Homo sapiens: one gene and its partners. The protein of the gene in region 3 purifies or fractionates together with the protein of the main gene of each other region. This does not show direct contact. Each region holds a gene or a part of one and is shown on either strand. Other genes may lie near its edges. The genes, in order: TCP10L, IFT46 and ZYG11B.

What was found.
Region 1: the proteins of ZYG11B (region 3) and TCP10L purify together in Homo sapiens (co-immunoprecipitation; one large-scale study listed by IntAct). This does not show direct contact.
Region 2: the proteins of ZYG11B (region 3) and IFT46 purify together in Homo sapiens (affinity purification with western blotting; one study listed by BioGRID). This does not show direct contact.

The regions. Positions count from the first base shown.
Region 1 is NC_000021.9:32,575,480-32,579,131, forward strand, and holds part of TCP10L (T-complex protein 10A homolog 1), read right to left. Parts: intron 3,353-3,652; coding exon 3,215-3,352; intron 1,445-3,214; coding exon 1,295-1,444; 3' UTR 1-1,294. Other genes in the region: CFAP298-TCP10L (uncharacterized protein LOC110091775), read right to left, coding at 1,295-1,444, 3,215-3,352. UniProt on the Homo sapiens protein: May be involved in transcriptional regulation. Has in vitro transcription inhibition activity. Acts as a tumor suppressor in hepatocellular carcinoma (HCC) cells.
Region 2 is NC_000011.10:118,555,907-118,559,558, reverse strand, and holds part of IFT46 (intraflagellar transport protein 46 homolog), read left to right. Parts: intron 1-1,668; coding exon of another isoform or gene 1,669-1,821; intron 1,822-2,513; coding exon 2,514-2,653; intron 2,654-3,652. UniProt on the Homo sapiens protein: Forms part of a complex involved in intraflagellar transport (IFT), the bi-directional movement of particles required for the assembly, maintenance and functioning of primary cilia. May play a role in chondrocyte maturation and skeletogenesis.
Region 3 is NC_000001.11:52,767,929-52,771,580, forward strand, and holds part of ZYG11B (protein zyg-11 homolog B), read left to right. Parts: intron 1-3,091; coding exon 3,092-3,652. UniProt on the Homo sapiens protein: Serves as substrate adapter subunit in the E3 ubiquitin ligase complex ZYG11B-CUL2-Elongin BC. Acts to target substrates bearing N-terminal degrons for proteasomal degradation with the first four residues of substrates being the key recognition elements.

The DNA of each region.
Region 1 (3,652 bases), on a different chromosome or scaffold from region 3:
GCCACGCAGACCTCGGCCAAGGATGGGAAGGAGTCCAGGTGCCAGGCAGCCCAGGGCGAGTGGTGCCCACAGGCTTGGGCTGTGCTGTGCATAAGGGCCACACCTGAAGCTCGGCCACACCTGAGGCTCGGCCACCACATAGGCCCCGTTTCTTTACCAAGATAGGTTCCTGCAGAGGTCGTGAAGCTGCTGTGGTCATTTGCTGGCAGCGACGTGAAGATAGAATTCTTTCCTGACTCAACCAGGGGCACTCTCGTCTCCTCCCCGTGAGACCCGCAATGCAGGAAGCACCCACAGCTGCATGGACAGAACTGGGGCCTGGGAAAGAGGCCAGGAAGGTGCCAGATGAGAGGGCGCTCCATCAGGGTGGCAGCAATGCCATGGGCTGGCAAATGGAGAAAGGGGAACAAAGCACCCAAGTGCATCTAGCCCCAGCCACACGCCTTCTGCTGGGAGTGTGCTCAGAGGGAAGTGACCGCTAGGATTCGGAATCTCCAGTCACGGCCCCTGGAGACCGGCATGTGGGCTGTGTGTGGGGTGGAGGGCTGGGGGTGTTGGCAAGTCTCACAGGTGAGGACCCAACGAGGGAATCAGACAAAAAGTGGCCACAAATTAGGCAGCTCCAGGAAGGACATGTCCTTGCCATAGTAAGATGTTCTGCTCACGCGTATCCACGAGAAAGCCCCGCATTTCACGGGGAGCATAGAAACAGGAGTCCCCAACTCTGCTCACCAGCTCCTCCGGCTGCTGCCATCTGCTCCTGCAGCATGGCGGCCTGGGAAGCCTGCACTGGTGATTTTCTGCCACTCAAGTTTTGCAGACTTCGGGAAGATGGATGCATAGCCTGGGGCAATGACAGTCACAGGCCCGCCTTGTCACAAGGTCCCTGGAGCGGGCAATGCCTTGAGCCCAAAGGCTGGGAGCACAAAGCCATCTTCAGCCATCCTCGATTTCCAGCAAGACCCCAGGGCTCACCCAACAGCCCGACACTCCATACTACAAGGTGGGTTAATTTTTTTAAAGACTCTGCAGAAATATACCAACTACAGAGCTCAGGAAAGCAACTGATTTATAAAACCCAATCCAAGTTGTTTGCTTTTATAGCATTAGAGACATGTCTGAAGAACTTCAAGTTTTTATCTATAGAAACATAATTAGTTTAATAAATTACTAGGTCTATTTTGAATAACAAATTGAGTACTTTTATTAGACCTAAGTGGAACTTTATCTGAATCTGAATTTTCCAAGGGGCCAGTGTAGAGTGACACAGGTGTCCGAGGCCACCTTTCCATCTTCAGACACCCCCCCGTCTCTCTGCACAGGGAGTTGGCCTTCCAGTAGGTGTTGCTCTTCTGTCTTGACGTCTCCTGGAAAGATTTTTATCTCTATTTTCCTGTGGTGGTGTTTTCCACGAGCTAATTCTTTCTATCTTTAAACTCATTGGCTGAAAACAAATGTGGGAATATTTTTGCATTAGTAACAATTATATTATTTTTAAATGTTAAGCAACACATCATACCAGCTATCACAGAATGTAGATGATTCTACTCCCCCTTCCTACAGAAGGACACATGAGGTATCCACACTTAGTGTCTCTCATTCCCCATTTTACAGCCCACGCTCTTGTGAAATTTGGGATTCCAATACATGGCTGATATTGTAAAGTCAACAGTGAAATAAAGTGCTTGAAACTCAATTCAAAAATGCATAATAAAAATAATTTTCTACATTTTGCACTATTTAACAATTGATGGTTTCAAGGCGTGGATAAGCCACCCATTCAGTTATCTATTTACTCGTACATTGCCCCGCATGCCTGTGATTAACTCAGGTCAATGATGGAGCATGAGAGAAGTCCGCGTCTCACAGGAGGCTGGGCCTGTGCAGTCCACCCTGGGACTTACGATGTTTTGTACTCATAGGATCTGAAAAGGCTCTTTTCCTACTTGTGACAAATGCTTGGAGTAGATTTCTGATCTTCCTTCAGGGAATAAAGTGTTATCTGCTCAGCAGTTGCTTTGGGAAAGAATGCGAGGGGATAAATCATCTTCAGGAGTTGGGGGCGCCTTCTCCATCCACATCAACCCAGTATCAGTTGCTGGCTGTGGACTCACGAGATTTGCTTCCTGAGTATGAGGGTGACACAAAGCTGGGACAGGAAGAGACACACTGGCTGGGAGAATGTTCTAAAGAGGAGCTAATTTTAACAAAGAAAAATGTGATAGAGACTGCCGAGACCAGCTCGGTCAGGAAGACCCTAACCCAGCAGTGCTAGAGGAATTAAAGACATACGCACGGAAGTATAGCATGTGGAGTGGGAAATCAGGGCACTCACAGCCTTCAGAGCTGAGAGCCGTGAACAGAGATTTACCCACATATTTATTGACAGCAAGCCAGTGATAAATTGTTTCTATAGATTATAGATTAACTAAAAGTATTCCTTATGGGAAACAAAGGGATGGGCCAAAACAAAGGGATGGGCTCTGGCTAGATATCCACAGCAGAAACATGTCCTTAAGGCACAGATCGCTCATGCTACTGTTTGTGGTTTAAGAACGCCTTTAAGCGGTTTTCCACCCTGGGTGGGCCAGGTGTTCCTTGCCATCATTCTGGTAAACCCACAACCTTCAGCGTGGGCATCATGGCCATCACGAACATGTCACAGTGCTGCAGAGATTTTGTTTGTGGCCAGTTTTGGGGCCAGTTTATGGCCAGATCTGGGGGCCTATTCCCAACAAGAGACAAAATAGCATCCTGTACTGTGGCTCCCAAGCTAACAGCGCCACCCCTGTTCAGAGGAGTCCACGCCGACAAGCAGCAGGTGCAAGACCGCAGTGCAGAAGCAGGGAGCACGGGAGGCTGCGAGCCCTCAGACTCACGGGTGGAGACAGTGCCACACACATCACCTCCGCAGCCTGCACCCACGGAAACAAAGCCCCCAAGTCCCCTCGGCCCCAGCCAGACGCTTGCTGCTGTGAGTGTACTCAGAGGGAAGCAGCCGGGAGGACTTGGAATCTGCTCCACAGCAAGAAGTGCTAAGGGTTAGGATCTTGTTTGAAAGGCATGTACCCGTGTCCTTGGAAGAACACAGGACTCCAGGGAGCACCATGCTCACCCAGGGAGGTGAAATTGTGTGGTGAGGAGCTGATGGGATGTGTGTGTTTGGGTACAGAACCTCTGCTTCTCTTTACAGATGATAAGCACAAAGGGTCACCTTTGGAGGAGCTGAATTGTTAGATGACGATCTTTGTCCCAGGAGAGTGGCACTCTGATTCTTGTGGCCAGCGTATTTGGGTATTGTCTCTTCATCAGCTGACAGAGGTGAAATTTTTCCAAAAGCAGGTTCCAATGCCTAAAAGACAAAATGCAGGGAAATTCTTCACATTTTCGAAGGTAAAATAAATTCAAATTTTAATACAATGAAGAATAATTGGAATGTCCTAGAAAAAAATAGGGTACAAGGTAGGGGGACTTGGACTGGGTTTTCCCCCTAATATGTTGATAAGAACAGAAACCCTCACCAAGCGTTTGTGAAGGAACCTTTGTGGAGCCGATGTTTGCTTTGTGTTTCTTATTGTGGTTCCTTGTTTCAAAATGATCACAGGATCCCAAAGGCTACAGAACAAACAATCCCCAACATATCTTCCTTTAG
Region 2 (3,652 bases), on a different chromosome or scaffold from region 3:
TAGGCCAGTGTTTCACAAACTTTCCTGATCATAATACTCAACTGAGGTACTTATTTTTAAATATACGGATTCCCAGTCCCAGCCCAGAATCTCAAAAGTAAAAGCCTGGGAATTTATATTTTTTAGGAAGCAGTCCAGGTAATTTTATGCTAAAGCGAGTTTGAAATTATCAGTCTAGGCATTTTTTCATTGTCAATACTTGTGATACTGCCAGTATTTTGTGAAGGAGATTTTAATTTTGAGGTCTTAAGACCCAGATGTTGGCTGCTGTTATTCTGTGTACCTAGAGAATCACCCTGCTTCTGAAAGAAACATGGCAAGAGGCCCACCTCTCTAGAAACATATAGGACCTTAGAGTTGCACATATGATTTCTTAAAAACCGTTTATGTTGGCCGGGTGTGGTGGCGCACTCCTGTAATCCCAGCACTTTGGGAGGCCGAGGCGGGCGGATCACCTGAGGTCAGGAGTTTGAGACCAGACTGTCCAACATGGCGAAACCCCATCTCTAATAAAAATACAAAAAATTAGCTGGGCGTGGTGGCGGGTGCCTGTAATCCCAGCTACTTGGGAGGCCTCCCAAGGTGCTGGGATTACAGGCACAAGCCACTGTGCCCAGCCTGTTTTTTTTGTTTGTTTTTTTTTTTTGAGACAGAGTCTTGCTCTTTCACCCAGGCTGGAGTGCAGTGATCTTGACTCACTGCAACCTCTGCCTCTTGGGTTCAAGCAATTCTCATGCCTCAGCCTCCCGAGTAGCTGGGGGATCACAGGCCTGCACCAACTCGCCTGGCTAATTTTTGTATTTTTAGTAGAGATGGGGTTTTGCCATGTTGGCCACACTGGTCTTGAACTCCTGACCTCAGGTGATCCTCCTGCCTTGGCCTTCCAAAGTGCTGGGATTACAGGTGTGAGCCACTGTACCCAGCCTGATGGCTGCATTTTAATGGTTTTTGTTTTTGTTTTGAGACAGAGTCATCTCGCTCTGTTGCCTAAGCTGGAGTGTAGTGGCATGACCTCAGCTCGCTGCAACCTCCGCCTCCAGGGTTCAAGCAATTCTCCTGCCTCAGCCTCCTGAGTAGCTGGGATTACAGGCGTGCGCCACCACGCCTGGCTAATTTTTGTATTTTTGGTAGAGATGGGGTTTCACCATGTTGGTCAGGCTGGTCTCGAACTCCTGACCACATGATCCGCCTGCTTCGGTCTCCCAAAGTGCTGGGATTACAGGCATGAGCCACCACCCCGGGCTGACAATATTCTTAAAAGTTCCCTCTGCCAAAACTGCTTCCTATGTGACTAAGGATAATTTTGGCAAATCTTGAATTGAGAAAGAATGCTCTAGAAAGTTCTTATCAGTCATATACTAATAAGGCATAGTCACTGAATAAATTCTGCAACTGTGTTTCATTATCTGCCATGCATATTACAGCTTAGTTAGAATATACTTTATGTATAATAAATTTGTTATTCTTAGAGCAAAATGTGACTAAAAGCAGTTTTTGGTGTCCTGTAACGTGTCACAATTTTGTGTGCCAATAGCTGCTTTACCATAAAAACAAATTAATTTTAAACAACTGGAATCAAACGTGTTAACCTCAGTATAAGCCATACGGTATATAGAAACCAAGTTTTGAAAACCTACTTTTAAAGGGGGCCAATTGGTCATCCTTCAGGTCCTAAGGGAGGGCATGCCACAGGCTCCAGGCCACAGAGGCAAAGACATGGACCCTGTTCCACCTGCCCCTGCAAGTCTCAAGTGCCACCAGACCCCTTCTCATGTACTTGAGAGGGTGGGATGGTACAGAGAGAGCCAGAAGCACAGAAAGGTAGGTTATAATGTCAAGAACAAAAGAGCTGTTTATCTTGAGAGAGAATGTGTAGTCATTTTATGTAATTTATGGGGTAAGGGAAGGGAAATACAGATAGGTCAGATACTCCATGAAGAGAAATATCACTGAACAAAAATGGAAAGTCCATAGTCCCTGGGACTGCTGGTTTGATGGGCACAAGGTTGATTTTGAACTTTCTTCTTTTGATAGTTTCAAGCAGCTTATGCTGGGCAGTCTTGCAAATTAAGTATTAGATTTCCTCTCTATGGTCTTTGTGAGTATTAAGACCCCTAAAATTTCTATTCCCACTTCATATTCCCTGATTTTCTTCCAAAATAACTAGAGTTGCCATCCTCTTCTTTGAAAGTCCATAGCTTTTCGGGCCGAAGCTGTCTAAAGTGTACACAGGGCCCTGAAGATCTAAGTAATATGTACAATAGATAAAATTAGAATTTATACCCCAGCCTCAAGTAGAGAAATGGAATAGGGTTCTAGAAAGTGGAGTCCCCATTTGTAGCTGAGCAGGGGCAGAAGAAGGCTCTCAAGCCCCTTCTGGGAAGTGCCCCCTTCTCTTTCTGGTGACGAGGTGCCAGGTGGTTGGTGTATTGGTTAGAGCAATAGAGAACTGGGCATAGGTACATTTGATTTTTTTACTTGAAGCTTTCTATGCCTGCCCTGCCCTATCACAGGAGAAGAAGAAGACCTCACAGTTGACACCTCAACGGGGCTTTAGTGAAAATGAGGATGACGATGATGATGATGATGATTCATCTGAAACTGATTCTGATTCTGATGATGATGATGAAGAGCATGGAGCCCCTCTGGAAGGGTGAGGAAAGAACACCCAAGCCAAGGGTGCTCTTCAGAATACCTCCTTCAAAACACTGGAGTGGGAGGACGTCAGTTAGAAGTGAAATTCCAGCATCTCTTTTGATCTCCTGTATTTAGGATTTTCAGATGTCTCAGAAACCCAACATAATAATGAGTTTTCCTCCCTTTCTGACTCCACTACCTTATCCAGTCCTATAGTATCACTTTACTATCTGAAACGTTTGTGGGCTTGGGGGTTACATGAGATTTTGCTGAGTAAATCAAAAAGGTGGTGGCCAGGCATGGTGGCTCAAGCCTGTAATCCTAGCATTTTGGGAGGCTGAGGTAGGAGGATTGCTTAAGGCTGGGCGTTCAAGACCAACCTGGGCAACATAGCAAGACCTCGTCTCTACAAAATTTTATTTTTTTTTTGAGACAGAGTCTTGCTCTATCGCCCAGGCTGGAGTGCAGTGGCGTGATCTCGGCTCACTGCAAGCTCCGCCTCCTGGGTTCACGCCATTCTCCTGCCTCAGCCTCCTGAGTAGCTGGGACTACAGGTGCCCGCCACCACGCCCAGCTAATTTTTTTTGTATTTTTAATAGAGACGAGGTTTCACCGTGTTAGCCAGGATGGTCTCGATCTCCTGACCTCGTGATCCGCTCGCCTCGGCCTCCCAAAGTGCTGGGATTACAGGCGTGAGCCACTGCACCCGGCCGCCCAAAAATTTTTTAAAAATTAGCTGAGCATGCTGGTGTGTGCCCATAGTCCCGGCTGCTCGGGAGGCTGAGGCAGGAGAATCACTTGAGCTCAGGAGTTTGAGACTGCAATGAGCTATGATCGGGTCACTGCACTCCAACCTGGTCAACAGAGTGAGACCCTGTCTCAAAAATAAATTAATTAAATTTAAAAAATAATAATAACACTGCTAAAAACACTTCTATAATTTTTTTTTTCTGGTGCAAACTATTTTCATGTCAGATATTTAAATCTCTTTTTTTTTTTGAGACAGAGTCTTGCT
Region 3 (3,652 bases):
CTACTAACATCGTGGTGGGGGATAGTTCTTACTACCCAGCAGGAATGAAAGTCCTTGCTCTCTACTCAGACTTCTCTAACACCTCCCCTGTGGGCAGATTGGGGCAAGTAATTACAGCCTGGCAGGGGTAGAAATCTAGGCCCCTATTGGCATTTGCTGGCATGGGTGGAGCTGCAGTTTTTTCTGTCGTGTTTGGCTGAAGTAGAGCAGTTACTGTCTACTAGCTGTTTCCTGTCTTACTAGTTGCTGCTTTCCTGGTACGTTGGCTAGAGAGAGCAGATTTTGGGGGAGGTTTTTGTCTGTGCCCATTGGTGTTTCCAGGCTGCTGGCTCCTTCAACTTTAGATCTGGGATATATGACCAGAAAAAAACCAGGAACTTTTCTGCGTTGTTCCATGGGTCCCAAGGTCCCCCCTAGCTGATCTGCTTTCATCTCTTCACCTTTCAGAGTGATCTAGCTCCAGCTCACCTTCAGCCTCATTTCTTCTGTCCCATTTGCATGCTTATATCCCCAGAAATGCACTGCATCTATGGCTCTAGCTATTTCTTATGTTCAAGCAATATAGAAAGAACTACTTGCCATTTCCTAACCCCGTGATATGCTTTCACATCTTTAAGACTTTGCTTATGTTGTATATTCTTGCTTTAATATACCTAACCTTCTTCCTCTTTTTTTTTTTTTTTTGAAATGGAGTCTTGCTCTGACGCCCAGGCTGGAGTGCAGTGGCGCCATCTCGGCTCACTGCAGCCTCCGCCTCCCAAGTTCGAGTGATTCTCTGCCTCAACCTCCCAAGTAGCTGGTATTACAGGCGCGCACCACCACACCCATTTAATTTTTGCATTTTTAGTAGAAACGCGGTTTTGCCACGTTGGCCAGGCTGGTCTCGAATTCCTGGCCTCAGGTGATCCATCCGCCTCGGCCTCCCAAAATGCTGGCATTATAGGCATGAGCCACTGCACCTGGCCTACTAACCTCCTTTCTCTATCTTTGAATTCTTCCAGCATTTTCAAAGGCCTTACTCAAAGATCACCTCTCCCATCAAATCTTTTCCAGATCTTCATTCATGATGGTTTACTTCCTTTTCTTTGTTTTTGTGATACTTTATACTTGACATTGATATACCATATATCTCATTTTGTTATGGCTGTTTGTGTCTTTTTTACTCCATGGGATTATGAATCCTTTGACTATAGGGGCATATCTTATTTTTCTTTGTATCTACAACATTTAGAGTACTTGACATATAGTAATTGTTTAATAAACTGTTTGCTGAATGGACCCCATCATGAAATTTACTCTCCTGAAATAGAGTGCAGGTAATTTGAAAGGCTGTCTCTAGAACTACATTGTTTAATCGAAATGTAATTTTAAATTTACCGGTGGCCACATAAAAAAATAAAAAGAAAAACAAGTGCAACGAGTTTTAATAATTTTTATTTAACCCAATATATTAAAAAATGATCATTTCAACCTGTAGTATATATAAAAAATTGAGATACTTTACATTATTTTGTTGTATTAAGTCTTCACAATCTGGTGTATATTTTGTACTTTATAGCTGACCTCACTTTGTACCACCTGCTTTCCAAGTGCTCTCCAGCTGTGTGGAGCTAGTGACTATGTATTGGGCAGCACAGCTCTAAAATGTAATGGAGTTCTTAATATGTAATTAGTCATTTTTGTCCACTTTGGCAGGTTTTGCACAGGCCTTTCTTGATTTTAACTGTGTAACTGTAATTAAGTCTGCAAAACTCATTAGAGAATAGTGCTCCCTTTTAAAAACACCTCATTTCTAATTTAAGGGTGACTGGCTGGCAGCCTAGCTGCATTTTGAGTATGGGCCAGCTAAGATGCCGCCTTAGAGTTCCTCTCATGACTTCAGGCTATTTATTTACCTGTCCTCAACTGCTCATTCACCCCATACTATTCTTAGACTACCTGTTTTTGGCATGATTGTTACTTCTTTCACAGTCAATGTTGTTTAGTTGATATGTGATATGTTGATGTGCCTCCAGAGTATCATATGCTTGTGACACTGTTGATTGGTAGACAGGTAGATCTCGAAGGCACTTCAAGAGGTTACTGTGTCGACTTCATTTACATTCATCTGCAGGAGGGGGAGTGTGGGGGGAAGCTGTAACTACTATATATATATATATATATATTTTTTTTTTTTTTTCAGAGACAGGTTCTCACTCTGTCACCCAGGCTGGTGTGCAATGGTGCAATCATAATTCACTATAACCACAAACTCCTGGGCTCAAATGATCCTTCCATCTCAGCCTCCCTAGTAGCTAGGACTATAGGCATGACCACTGTGCCCAACTCGTTTTCAGTTATTTTGCAGAGATGGGGTCTTGCTATGTTTCCCAGGCCTAGATCGCTTTAATAAGGTTTGAGATCTGGCTAGTGGTTTATTAATGAATTACAAGGCATTAAGTGCATGCTAAATATATTATGTGTATATGTGTTTGTATAATAATATGTTAAGGTGAATTTAAAGGATAGGCTAGAAATGTATTGGTAACAAATCAAATACCTTAACACAAGGTTTATACCTCACTTGTGGTACATAAACTCTGCAAGTCCATAGAGGATTCTGCTTCATGGTCACCCTAGGGTCCAAACTGATGGAGGGTTTCTCCTCATATAACTATACTCTCTAGAACGTGAAGTCTCCTCGTTTGTCATAGCAGGAAAAGACAGCATGGAAAATCATGCACTGGCTCTCAGGTGCTTCAACATATAGTGCATTGGCCAGAACTAGGCACATGGCTCCAGCTAACTCCAGGGATGGGCTGGGAAATGTAGTTGTCTGGTAAGGTAAGAACTAGATGTTAGTGGATATCAATAATGTCTGCCACAGTCCTGATTCTGCCACTTGCTAGCCCTGTGATCTTGGAAAGCCACTCTCTGAGCCCCAGTTTACTCATCTACAAGTTGTAAACAATAATAATCTCACCTAAATGAATTGTGATTATCAGACGAGATACTGTTACATGGGAGCGCTTTGGAAATGTAAAGTGTGATGGAAATTTTGGCTATTCTTTAACTGTTTTTTGAATTTAAAACGCTGCTTGTTTTTCCACAGGTCTATTGAATGATGGAACTGTGGGTATTTTTAGGGGCAACCAGATGCGCTTAAAGCGAGCCTGCATTCGCAAAGCAAAGATCTCTGCTGTTGCTTTCCGGAAAGCTTTCTGCCACCACAAGTTAGTGGAACTTGATGCCACAGGTGTGAATGCTGATATCACGATTACAGACATTATCAGTGGGCTTGGCAGTAACAAATGGATCCAGCAGAATCTCCAGTGCCTGGTGCTGAATTCATTAACTCTCTCCCTCGAGGATCCTTACGAGCGCTGCTTCAGCCGGCTTTCTGGCCTTCGAGCTTTAAGCATCACGAATGTTCTCTTTTACAATGAAGACCTGGCTGAAGTTGCCTCATTGCCAAGATTAGAGAGCTTGGATATTTCTAACACCTCAATCACAGACATCACTGCTCTACTGGCCTGCAAAGACCGACTCAAGTCTCTAACCATGCACCACTTGAAATGTTTAAAAATGACAACTACCCAGATACTGGATGTAGTTCGGGAACTCAAACATCTGAATCATCTTGATATCTCAGATGATAAACAGTTTACATCAG